2 separate regions of the Homo sapiens genome follow, and region 2 is linked to region 1. Evidence: fine-mapped expression QTL. A gene starts in region 1. The other region holds a variant in brackets. All regions are shown on one strand. Distances are between the middles of the regions.

Region 1 (5,373 bases):
AGACATGCCCTCCAGGGTCTGCTTCCCACTGGAAGGCTTACCTCTGATATGGGAGTGTCAATAATCCTCTTGTCTCCATATTTCTTCCACAGCCCTCGACTAACCTACAATTAAGAGTTGATCCCTTAAGTGTATCTGGGGGTAACAGTGACCTCAATTTTGTATAACTTTCATATATTTTAGTTACCTTGTATGCCCCATCATACTGGGCAACTTCTTCTCCAAGCAGAAATACCTTCTCATCTCTTTCCAGCTCCTCATCCATACCCTGATTTATAGCATCACGAACTGTCACCTGTCACAGGTATGCAAAAACAGTCAATACAGAATTGTTTGGGATTCAACTAAGATTTTCTTCCTTTATATTTACCTAGGCTGCCCACAGCATACAATATAAAAACACTAGAACAAGCTTCTCTCTAAAAACTCAAAGAATTCTAAAAGTAACATTTCTATTACACATAGTTGGTCTTTGCATGTGTTAATGTACTGAGTGCTCACTAGGTGCCAAGTACTGCCAAATACTTTGCATCCAGAATGTAGGAGTTGCTCTTTTAATATAATGAATGGTAAAATCTAGTTAAAAAAAGGAAGGAGAGGAGAATTAACATACAATCCATCAATTCCACTTCTATGTATATGCCCCAAATAATTGAAAGCAGGGATTCAAGCATATACTTGCACATCAATGTTCACAGCAGCATTACTCACAATAGACAAAACAAGGCCAGGCACGGTGGCTCACACCTGTAATTCCAGCACTCTGGGAGGCCAAGGCAGGTGGATCACTTGAGGTCAGGAGTTCGAGACCACCCTGGCCAACATGGTGAAACCCATTCTCTACTAAAAATACAAAAATTGGCCGGGTGTGGTGGCGGGTGCCTGTAATCCCAGCTACTCGGGAGGCTGAGGCAGAATTGCTTGAACCCAGGAGGCAGAGATTGCAGTGAGCTGAGATAGTGCCACTGCACTCTAGCCTGGGCAGCAAGAGCAAAACTCCGTCTCAAAAAAAAAAAAGAAAATGTCGGGCTGAGCGAGGTGGCTCATGCCTGTAATCCTAGCACTTTGGGAGGCCAAGGCAGGCAGATCACTTGAGGCCAGGAGTTCAAGACCAGCCTGGGCAATATGGTGAGACCCTGTCTGTACTAAAAATACAAAAATTAGCCCGGTGTGGTGGCACCGGCATCTAATCACAGCTACTCAGGAGTGTGAGGCGCGAGAATCCCTTGAGCCCAGGAGGTGGAGGTTGCAGTGAGCTGAGATCGCGCCACTGCACTCCAACCTGGGTGACAGAGGGAGACTATCTCAAAAAAATATACATATATATATTATTCAGCCTTAGGAAAGAATCAAACTCTGACGCATGCTACAACATGGATGAACCTTGAGGACATTACGCTGAGATAAGCCAGACACAAAAGGACAAATGATGCCACTTATAAGAAGTTCTAGAATAGGCAACCTCATAAAGACAGAAAAGTACAACAGGGGTTACCAGGGGTTTGGGGAAGGGAAATGAGGAGTTACCGAGTAATGGACAGTTTCTGCTTGGGATGATTAAAAAGTTCTGGAAATGGATGGTGGTTAATGGTTGTACAACATGGTGAATGTACTTAATGCCACTGAATTATACACTTCTAAAAAGTACATTTTAAGTTAGGTCTATTTTGCTGCAATTTAAAGAAAAAAACATGGAGTGAGGGAGGAAACGCCTAGTCTTAGTTTTCCCCCATTGCCCAGCCAGCTGTGAGGTGGTGACTCGCCGGTGTGCTAATTGCCAGGCGGCGACAGAGGCAGCAGGAGCTCCACGGAGGATGCTGGCTCCGCAAACCCAAGGCCCACGGCGCCGGAAGGCCACAGCGCAGGCGCGACTCCGGCCTCCTTCCCGAGAGAAGGGGGGACCCTCCCCGCCCTCGTCCGACGAGCACCCGCGCCTGTTACCTGCAGCGCAGCCGGCGCGGTCCAGTGAAAGCGCCTCTTCAGCAGCCCGGAGACCTGGCAGGGAGAGAGGAAGATGACGGCGGGACGCAGGGTGGGCAGGGGTCGCGTGGGAATACAGGCCGCGCGCTGCTGCCTACCTCCCGAAGGGGTCTCCGCACCAAGCCAGACACCGCCGCCATCTTGGTCGTGTCCTCTATCCGCTGCCAAACGACAACAGAGGGGCCGGCAGACGTGAGCAGGCCCCGCCTCCACCGGCGCGGGCCAATGGCAAGGCGCGCCGGCTGCGTGACCCGCCCACCCGCCCACCGGGTGAGGGGCCGCGGGGCCGGGCTGAGGTGGCGTGTGGGTGGCCGTGCCCCTCTGCCTGGAGCCGCCTCAAATCAACTTTATTGACAGTAGGCGGTGACCGACAGGCGGGGTGCACGCTGGGCACACGTGCCTGGTCGGTGTTACTTGAAGCGTGGGGACTAGAAGTCAGACCCTGAGGAGCATGATCTCTGGAAGCTGGAGAGACCTTAAGAGTTAGGCCAACCTGTTGTGGGTGCTGGAATCCTTTGGGCACCAAGAAGTGCTTGCACACGCTCTACTGATGGGGAACTTAACACTTCATGAGTGAGTCTAGTCTTCCCTGGACAGTGCTGTCTGTTGATTCCTTATAATGCACATCATAGCTTTCATTGATTGCATTAAGCACCTACTGTGAGCCAAGCATTGAGATATGTGCTGTATAGCTCATTCTCACAGTACCCCACTTGGGTAATTAGTGTTATTATTATCTCCATTTTGAAGACGGTTAAACTGAAGCAGAAATTGATTAAATGAGCCGATATTTTAATTTAGGACTGTCTTGACTCTAAAGCATGGTCTTTTTCCCACTGCTTCCTAAAGCAGAAGTGGATTCCTGCTTGGGGGAAGGTTACAACAACTTTAGAGAAGGGCGGCCCTATGGATGTAGCAGGACAAGCCGCAGACGAAACTCCTCAGACACCGAGTTAAAGAAGGAAGGGGTTTATTCGGCCAGGGGCATGGGCAAGACTCTTGTCTCAAGAGCCGAGCTCCCTGAATGGGCAATTCCTGTCCCTTTTAAGGGCTCACAGCTCTAAGGAGGTGTGCGTGAGAGGGTCATGATTGATTGAGCAAGCAGGGGGTATGTGACTAGGGGCTGCAAGCACCGGTAATTAGACTGGAACAGGATAGGGATTTTCACAGTGCTTTTCTATACAATGTCTGTAATCTATAGTTAACATAACCGATTAGGTCGGGGTCGATCTTTACCAGGCCCAGGGTGTGGCACCAGGCTGTCTGTTTGTGGATTTCATTTCTGCCTTTTAGTTTTTACTTTTTCTTTCTTTGGAGGCAGAAATTGGGCATAAGACAATATGAGGGGTGGTCTCCTCCCTTATGGGGAGGTGCCAAACACTTGGCCATAGGGACAACCTCTGGAAGCTCATTAGTCTTAATTTGGCCCTTGGGGGTCAGATGGGACAATTGAGCACCCAGTCTCCACCCATCCCCAAGACATTCCAAACATTCCCTTCTATGGATCACAGCTGCAGGCTGCCAAATTAGGAATTTGCAACTTCCAGTAGGTTGCTGACTGGGAATGGGAGGGGGTGGAGGCAAAGGCAGAACAGGCGGATGCTGGGAAGTCTGTGGCAGCAACAGAGGCAGACTAGGAGGCAACTTCCAGATGGAGAGGAGGGGGACAGTTTTGAGATCTATTTGGGCTAGAATCAATAGGAATGCTGTAAGTGCTAGGGAAGAGCAGAGGAAAATTTTGGATTTTTGTCATTGCTGGATGGATAGATGGGGTAAGGGAGGAGCCTGGGGCAGTGTAAGTGCCAGGAGCTGGGGAAGTAAGAGTGTATTTTTGTTTATTTTTTGAGATGGAGTTTCACTCTGTCACCCAGGCTGAAGTGCAGTGGGCCTCACTGCAACCTCTGCCTCCCAGGTTCAAGCTATTCCCCTGCTTCAGCCTCCCGAGTAGCTGGGATTACAGGCACCTGCCACCATGCCCGGCTAATTTTTTTTATTTTTAGTAGAGATGAGTTTTCACTATGTTGACCAGGCTGATGTTGAACTCTTGACCTCAAGTGATCCACCCGCCTCAGCCTCCCAAAGTGCTGGGATTACAGGCATGAGCCACTGCAGCCAGCCTTTATTCTTTAGATGACTGGGACATACCCAGGTTGCCTGGAGCCTAGGGCCTAGTCAGGGCTAAAGGTAGAAATTTGGGGACAGCTGCATAGAGATGACATTTACTCTCTGGGACTGTTTCATCTGTAAAATGGATAGAAGATCTTCAAGATATGGAATCAACACCTTCTGAGTCTCCCTCACCTGCCACCATCGTCTAGTCCCAACTGTCCCTGCCAGGGCCTCAGGAATGGCCAGCACTTCCTAGACTGCCACAGCATCCCTGAGAAACTCCTGAACTTGAGATTTCAGCCCCCAAAAGTTTGTGGGTGGTGCTCAGAATGAAAAAGTGAATCAGTCCTTCCCACCTTTCCCACAACCTAGCACCAAAAGATTTCAGGATCAGATTTGCCAAGCAAAAGGAGATGTTACAGGAAAGCAGTCCCGATCGAGATCCCAAGAGAGAGTTCTTGGATCTCACACAAGAAAGAATTCAGGGCAAGTCCACAGTGCAAAGCAAAAGCAAGTTTATTAAGAAAGTAAAGCAATAAAAGAATGGCTACTCTATAGACAGAGCAGCCCTGAGGGCTGCTGATTGCCCATTTTTATGATTATTTCTTGATTTTATACTAAACAAGGGGTGGATTATTCATGCCTCCCCTTTTTAGACCATATAGGGTAACTTCTTGACATTGCCGTGGCATTTATAAACTGTCATGGCGCTGGTGGGAGTGTAGCAGTGAGGATGACCAGAGGTCATGCTCATCGCCGTCTTGGTTTTGGTGGGTTTTGGCCAGCTTCTTTCCTGCAACCTGTTTTATCAGCAAGGTCTTTATGACCTGTATCTTGTGCTGACCTCCTATCTCATCCTGTGACTGAGAATGCCTAACTGTCTGGGAATGCAGCCCTGTAGGTCTCTGCCTCATTTTACCCAGCTCCTATTCAAGATGGAGTTGCTCTGGTTCACATTCCTCTGACATTTGCCTCCTCCCTATTATGAGAGAAACTTTAATCCTAAAAGTTTCGGAGGGATGAAGATGCATCTTCTGTAACTTCTTCAGGCTGAATAGGGGTGATGATATTCCTGCTTAACTATTAGGGTCCCTTATGTTCAGAGTAGAGAGGAGCTCAGAAAACATCAGTATAGTGAGGGCCATTCATAACTCCAAGTTCTGACAAAAGGTGATATCTGGAAGATTAATAAGTATTCAGTTTAAGAAAACATTCAGTAAGCTTATCCTGCACTCCTACACAAAGAGTACAATAGCAATATATTCCACAAGAGTAAAGCAAAAT
Region 2 (5,299 bases), 120 kb before region 1:
TACCACTATCACTTTTCTCTCATTTGAATACCTACTTTGTGTCATAGTATTACAGTATTTTTTGTTTGTTTGTTTTGGAGACAGGGTCATGCTCTGTCACCCAGGCTGGAGTGCAGTGGTACAATCACAGTGCACTGTATCCTTAACCTCCCAGACTCAAGCTATCCTCCCACCTCAGCCCCTGGAGTAGCTGGGACTACAGGCACACACTACCATGCCTGGTTAATTTAAGTTTTTTTGTTTTTTTTTTTAGTGACAGGGTCTCACTATGTTTCCCAGGCTGGTCTCAAACTCCTGGCCTCCCAAACTGTTGAGATTACAGGCATGAGCACCACGCCAGGCCCCAAAGTATTAATGTTTGTTGAATGGATTGGTAGATGTAGCTCCTTGACCCTGACTTCTTTTCTCCAGAGGTCATCATCTGGGAGTGGTTGGAACTGGGTCTAACCCAGAGTGGTTTTGAAATGCTGGTCCATAGCTCTGTGACCTTGGATAAGTCCCTTTCCTTGATTGGGCCTCAGTTTCCTGTTCCCTGTAGTGGGGGATCCATATATTAAACAAATAGACAGTGTTAAGAGATTGCATAACATGGGGGCTTAACTTAGAGAAGGGTGTCAGAGAAGACCTTCATGAAGAGGTGGTATTTAAACTGAAAGTTGAAGGATGAATAGGACCTATCCAGAGGGAGAGCAAGGTTGGCATGGAGCCAAGGAAAGGAACTGTCTACAGAGAGATGAGCATGTTCTACGTTCTTGAAAGTTCAGACCTTTTAGAAGCTGCATTGAGTGCCCCTTCCAGGAATCCCTCTTCTCAACCCCTGTGCTGTTTAAGCTCAGTTGTTCACAGATAGTCTTGCACAGACCTGGCTTTTGGACTGAGAGCAGGCAGACACAGGATGGGAGGAGACGGCAGAACGACCATCCCTCATTCTTCTCTTTGTGTTCTGTGTTGACTGAGAGTAAACAAGAAGAGGACCTTCAAATCTTAGATTTTACTCCTTTATGTCTTTTCTTTTTCTTTGGATAAAGAGGCATCGTAACTGGTCTTGAGTGGGCTCAGAGTGGTTGGAATCTCTGGGCACCCTTGGGCAGATGTTACCTACGTTTACTAAACCTCTGTGTCATCTTCTCGAAAATGGGAATAATAATACCTCTTACCTCAGGAGCATTTTGAAGACAAGCTAAGGCATGTGAAATGTTTAGCAAAGAGCTGGGTGCTCATAAGGAAAATTGTTAGCCAAAATTATGTTGTTATGTTTTAAGTAAGAGTACAGTGATTTGACATTTATAGAATATAGAAACTTATTTTGTATTCGTATGGGTAACCTTAGTTTGATCAGAATTAGATGAGTTACTGTGCTCAGAAGTCTTAAAAACCAAACAGGAGGCCAGGCACAGTGGCTCACACCTGTAATACCGGCACTCTGGGAGGCCGAGGCAGGCGTATCACGAGGTCAGGAGTTCGAGACCAGCCTGACCAATATGGTGAAACCCTGTCTCTACTAAAAATACAAAAAAGGTAGCCGGGCGTGGTAGCACATTCCTATAATCCCAGCTACTCGGGAGGCTGAGGCAGGAGAATTGCTTGAATCCGCGAGGCAGAGGTTGCAGTGAGCCAAGATTGTGCCACTGCACTCCAGCCTGGGCGACAGAGCAAGACTCCTTCTCCAAAAAAAAAATAATAATAACAGGAAGGCCGGGCCTGGTGGCTCACACTTGTAATCCCAGCACTTTGGGAGGCTGAGTTGGGCAAATTGCTTGAGCCCAGGAGTTTGAAACCAGCCTGGGCAACATGGTGAAACCCTGTCTCTACAAAAAATACAAAAATCTGCTGGATGTGGTGGCACGTGCCTATACTCCCAGCTACTCAGGAGTCTGAGGCAGGAGGATCACCTGAGCCTCGAGAGCCAGAGGTGGAGGCTGCAGTGAACTCTGATTGTACCACTGCACTTCAGCCTAGGTGACAGGGTGAGACCCTGCCTTAAAACAAACAAACAAAAAAAACCCAAATAGGCCAAATTCTCATCAAAACTCTGAAAAATAGCATGTGCATTGGTCATTTCTAGCCCTCTTGACTTACTGTAGGTGTGATCAGCACTGGAAAAGATGCCTGCCCCTGCTGCCACATATGAAAGAGTAGTTTACAAAAACCCTTCCGAGTACCACTACATGAAAGTCTGCCTGTAAGTTTAGTTTCCTAAGTTCTATTTTAGATTACTTTTCTAACATGAATCTGAATAGAATGAAATTTAATATGACTTTTTTTTTTTTCACTTTTTTTAGAGAATTTCAAGATTGTGGAGTTGGACTGAATGCTGCACAGTTCAAACAGCTGCTTATTTCGGCTGTGAAGGACCTGTTTGGGGAGGTATGGAATCACTTGGTAGATTGAACATTCCAAAGATCTTTGTAAGAAATACAGAAAGAGGCCGGGCGCGGTAGCTCACGCCTGTAATCCCAGCACTTTGGAGGCCGAGGTGGGCAGATCATGAGGTCAAGAGATCGAGACCATCCTGGCCAACATGGTGAAACCCCATCTGTACTAAAACTGCAAAGATAAGCTGGGTGTGGTGGCAGGCACCTGTAATCCCAGCTACTCGGGAGGCTGAGGCAGGATAATTGCTTGAACCCGGGAGGCAGAGGTTGCAGTGAGCCGAGATAACGCCACTGCACTCCAGCCTGGCAACAGAGCGAGACTCTGTCACAAAAAAAAAAATCGAGAAAGAATGCTTTTCAAACAT[CAAA/C]AAAAAAAAAAAAATAAATTATACAACTCTGTATTTTTAAATTTTTATTCATTTATTGTAATAAACACATTTGTATTCCTTTTTTTCCTCCTTCATCCTCTCTACCCTCCTACCCTTCCCAGCCTCTGATAATCACCAATCTACTTTCTATCCTCATGAAATCTACTTTTTGTTGTTGTTGTTGTTGTTGTTGTTGTTTTTCTTTGAGATGGAGTCTTGCTTTGTTGCCCAGGCTGGAGTGCAATGGCACATTCTTGGCTCACTGCAGCCTCTGCCTCCCAGATTCAAGGGATCTTCCTGCCTTAGCCCCCCTGGTAGCTGAGATTACAGGCACACGCTACCATGCCCAACTAATTTTTGTATTTTTACTAGAGACAGGGTTTCGTCATGTTGGCCAGGCTGGTCTTGAACTCCTGACCTCAGGTGATCCACGCGCCTTGGGCTCCCAAAGTGCTGGATTACAGGCACGAGCCACTGTGCCTGGCAAGATCTGCTTTTTTAGCTCTCACATATGAGTGAGAACATGCAACAGTTGTCTTTCTGTGCCTGGCTGGCTTCACTTAACAAAATGGCCTCCAGTTCTATTCATGATGCTGCAAATGACAGAATTTCATTCTTTTTTATGGCTGAATAATATTCCATTGTAATATATACCACTTTTTTTTTTTTATCCATTGATGGGCACTTAAGTTCTACATTTTGCCTATTGGGAATACAATAAATATGAGAGTGCATATGTCCTTTTTTTTTTTTTTCCCCACCTTGGCTTCCCAAAGTGCTGGGATGACAGCATGAGCCACTATGCCCAGCTGCACATGTCTTTTTGAATTGATTTCCTTTCTCTTGGATTTATGCTCAGTAGTAGACTTGCTGGATTAAATGGTATTCTATTTTTAGTTTAGTTTCTTTTGTTTTTTGTTTTTGAGATGAAGTCTTGCCGTGATGCCCAGGGTGGAGTGCAGTGGCATGGTCATGGCTCACTACAGCCTCAACCTCCCAAGCTCAAGTGATTCTCCCACCTCAGTATCCCGAGTAGCTGGGACCACAGGCGTGTGCCACCACGCCAATTTTTTTACTTGTAGAGGCAAGGTCTCACTATGTTGCCCAGGCTCCTGGACTCAAGCAATCCTCCTGCCTTGGCCTCCCAAAGCACTGGGATTACAGACATGAGCCACTGCACCTGACCTATTTTTAGTTTTTTGGGAAACCTCCATACTGCTCTCCACAGTGGTTGTACATTTACATTCCTCCCAGTAGTGTGTGAGGGTTCCCCTAGAGATTATTTTATTTTATTTTTATTTATTTATTTTTTGAGACAGAGTCTCGCTCTGTCACCCAGGCTGGAGTGCAGTGGCACAACCTCCGCACCCCCCCCCGCCCCTCCCGGATTCAAGTGATTCTCCTGCCTCAGCCTCCCGAGTAGCTGAGACTACAGGTACCTGCCACCACGCCCAGCTAATTTTTGTATTCCCCTAGAGATTATTTTAAAACTGTGTTTGAAATTGCAGAAGTAAACTTTCAGAAGTGATGAATTTTGTTGGGTTTATTCTAATATGCCTTCTGTTTGACAAGGAACACGTTAGACAAATGATTGTTGTAGCACAGTGCTACTCAAAGTGTGGCCTAGACTGGCACCTGCAAACTCTTTTCCCATCTTGAAGAGATAAGGAATTTGCAGCAGAACCACTTTTAATGAGAAAGTCTCCTTATGGGCCAGGCGCAGTGGCTCACTCCTATAATCCCAGCTCTTCGGGAGGCTGAGATGAGCAGATCACTTACAGTCAGGAGTTTGAGACTAGCCTGGCCAACGTGGTGAAACGCTTTCTCTACTGAAAATACAAAAATTAGCTGGGCATGGTGGCGCACGCTTGTAGTCCCAGCTACTTGGAAGACTGAGGCAGGAGAATTGCTTGAACCTGGGAGGCAGAGGTTGCAGTGAGCAGAGATCACGCCACTGCATTCCAGCCTGGGCAACAGAGCAAGACTCTGTCTCAAAAAAAAAAAAAAAAAAAAGGGCTGGGCACGGTAGCTCACGCCTGTAATCCTAGCACTTTGGGAGGCCAAGGCAGGCAGATCCCAAGGTCAGCCGATCAAGACCATCCTGGCTAACACGGTGAAACCCTGTCTCTACTAAAAACACAAAAAGCCGGGCGCAGCGGCGGGCACCTGTAGTCCCAGCTACTCGGGAGGCTGAGGCAGGAGAATGGCATGAACCCGGGAGGTGGAGCTTGCAGTGAGCCGAGATCACGCCACTGCACTCCAGCCTGGGCGACAGAGCGAGACTCGGTCTCAAAAAAAAGGCTCCTCATGAAAAAAAGATGAACTGAACTAAACATGGTGATTAATGATACTATTGGTTTATATTCTGATTCAACTCATTATTTTGTCATAGACCAGCATTTTAAGCAACTTTGAGAACAGAAGTAGAGAAGTAGAGTTTCAGAAGTTGAAAGAAGACAGGATGCTCAGGAAATTATTTTGTGATTCATATAGTCTGTCAAATCAAAATATGCTAAGTACCTCATCAAAATTTAAAACTTTTACTCTGCAAAAGAC

What was found. PIP is the estimated chance that this variant, and not a neighbour inherited with it, causes the effect. A credible set is the group of variants that fine-mapping cannot tell apart.
Region 2: its variant is the best candidate, but not a certain one, in a credible set for the expression of PDHB in whole blood (INTERVAL, PIP 0.58).

Annotation. Positions count from the first base shown.
Region 1 is chr3:58,431,690-58,437,062 of GRCh38, forward strand. PDHB (pyruvate dehydrogenase E1 subunit beta) reads right to left here and starts at 2,143. Exons shown (of 10, transcript NM_000925.4): 1 at 2,079-2,143; 2 at 1,942-1,995; 3 at 188-295; 4 at 42-104. The coding sequence starts at 2,120. LOC107986092 (a long non-coding RNA gene) reads left to right here and starts at 1,906. Exons shown (of 4, transcript XR_007095933.1): 1 at 1,906-2,553. RefSeq lists enhancers at 1,899-2,118, 3,161-3,770 and a silencer at 2,179-2,418.
Region 2 is chr3:58,308,225-58,313,523 of GRCh38, forward strand. It overlaps RPP14 (ribonuclease P/MRP subunit p14), which reads left to right. Exons shown (of 6, transcript NM_007042.6): 2 at 2,085-2,182; 3 at 2,283-2,367. The coding sequence starts at 2,106. It overlaps HTD2 (hydroxyacyl-thioester dehydratase type 2), which reads left to right. Exons shown (of 5, transcript NM_001348712.2): 2 at 2,283-2,367. Among named protein-coding and RNA genes, the nearest start is that of HTD2, 4.4 kb to the left of the region's middle. RefSeq lists an enhancer at 4,100-4,601. The variant CAAA/C (reference allele first, on the strand shown) is at 2,741.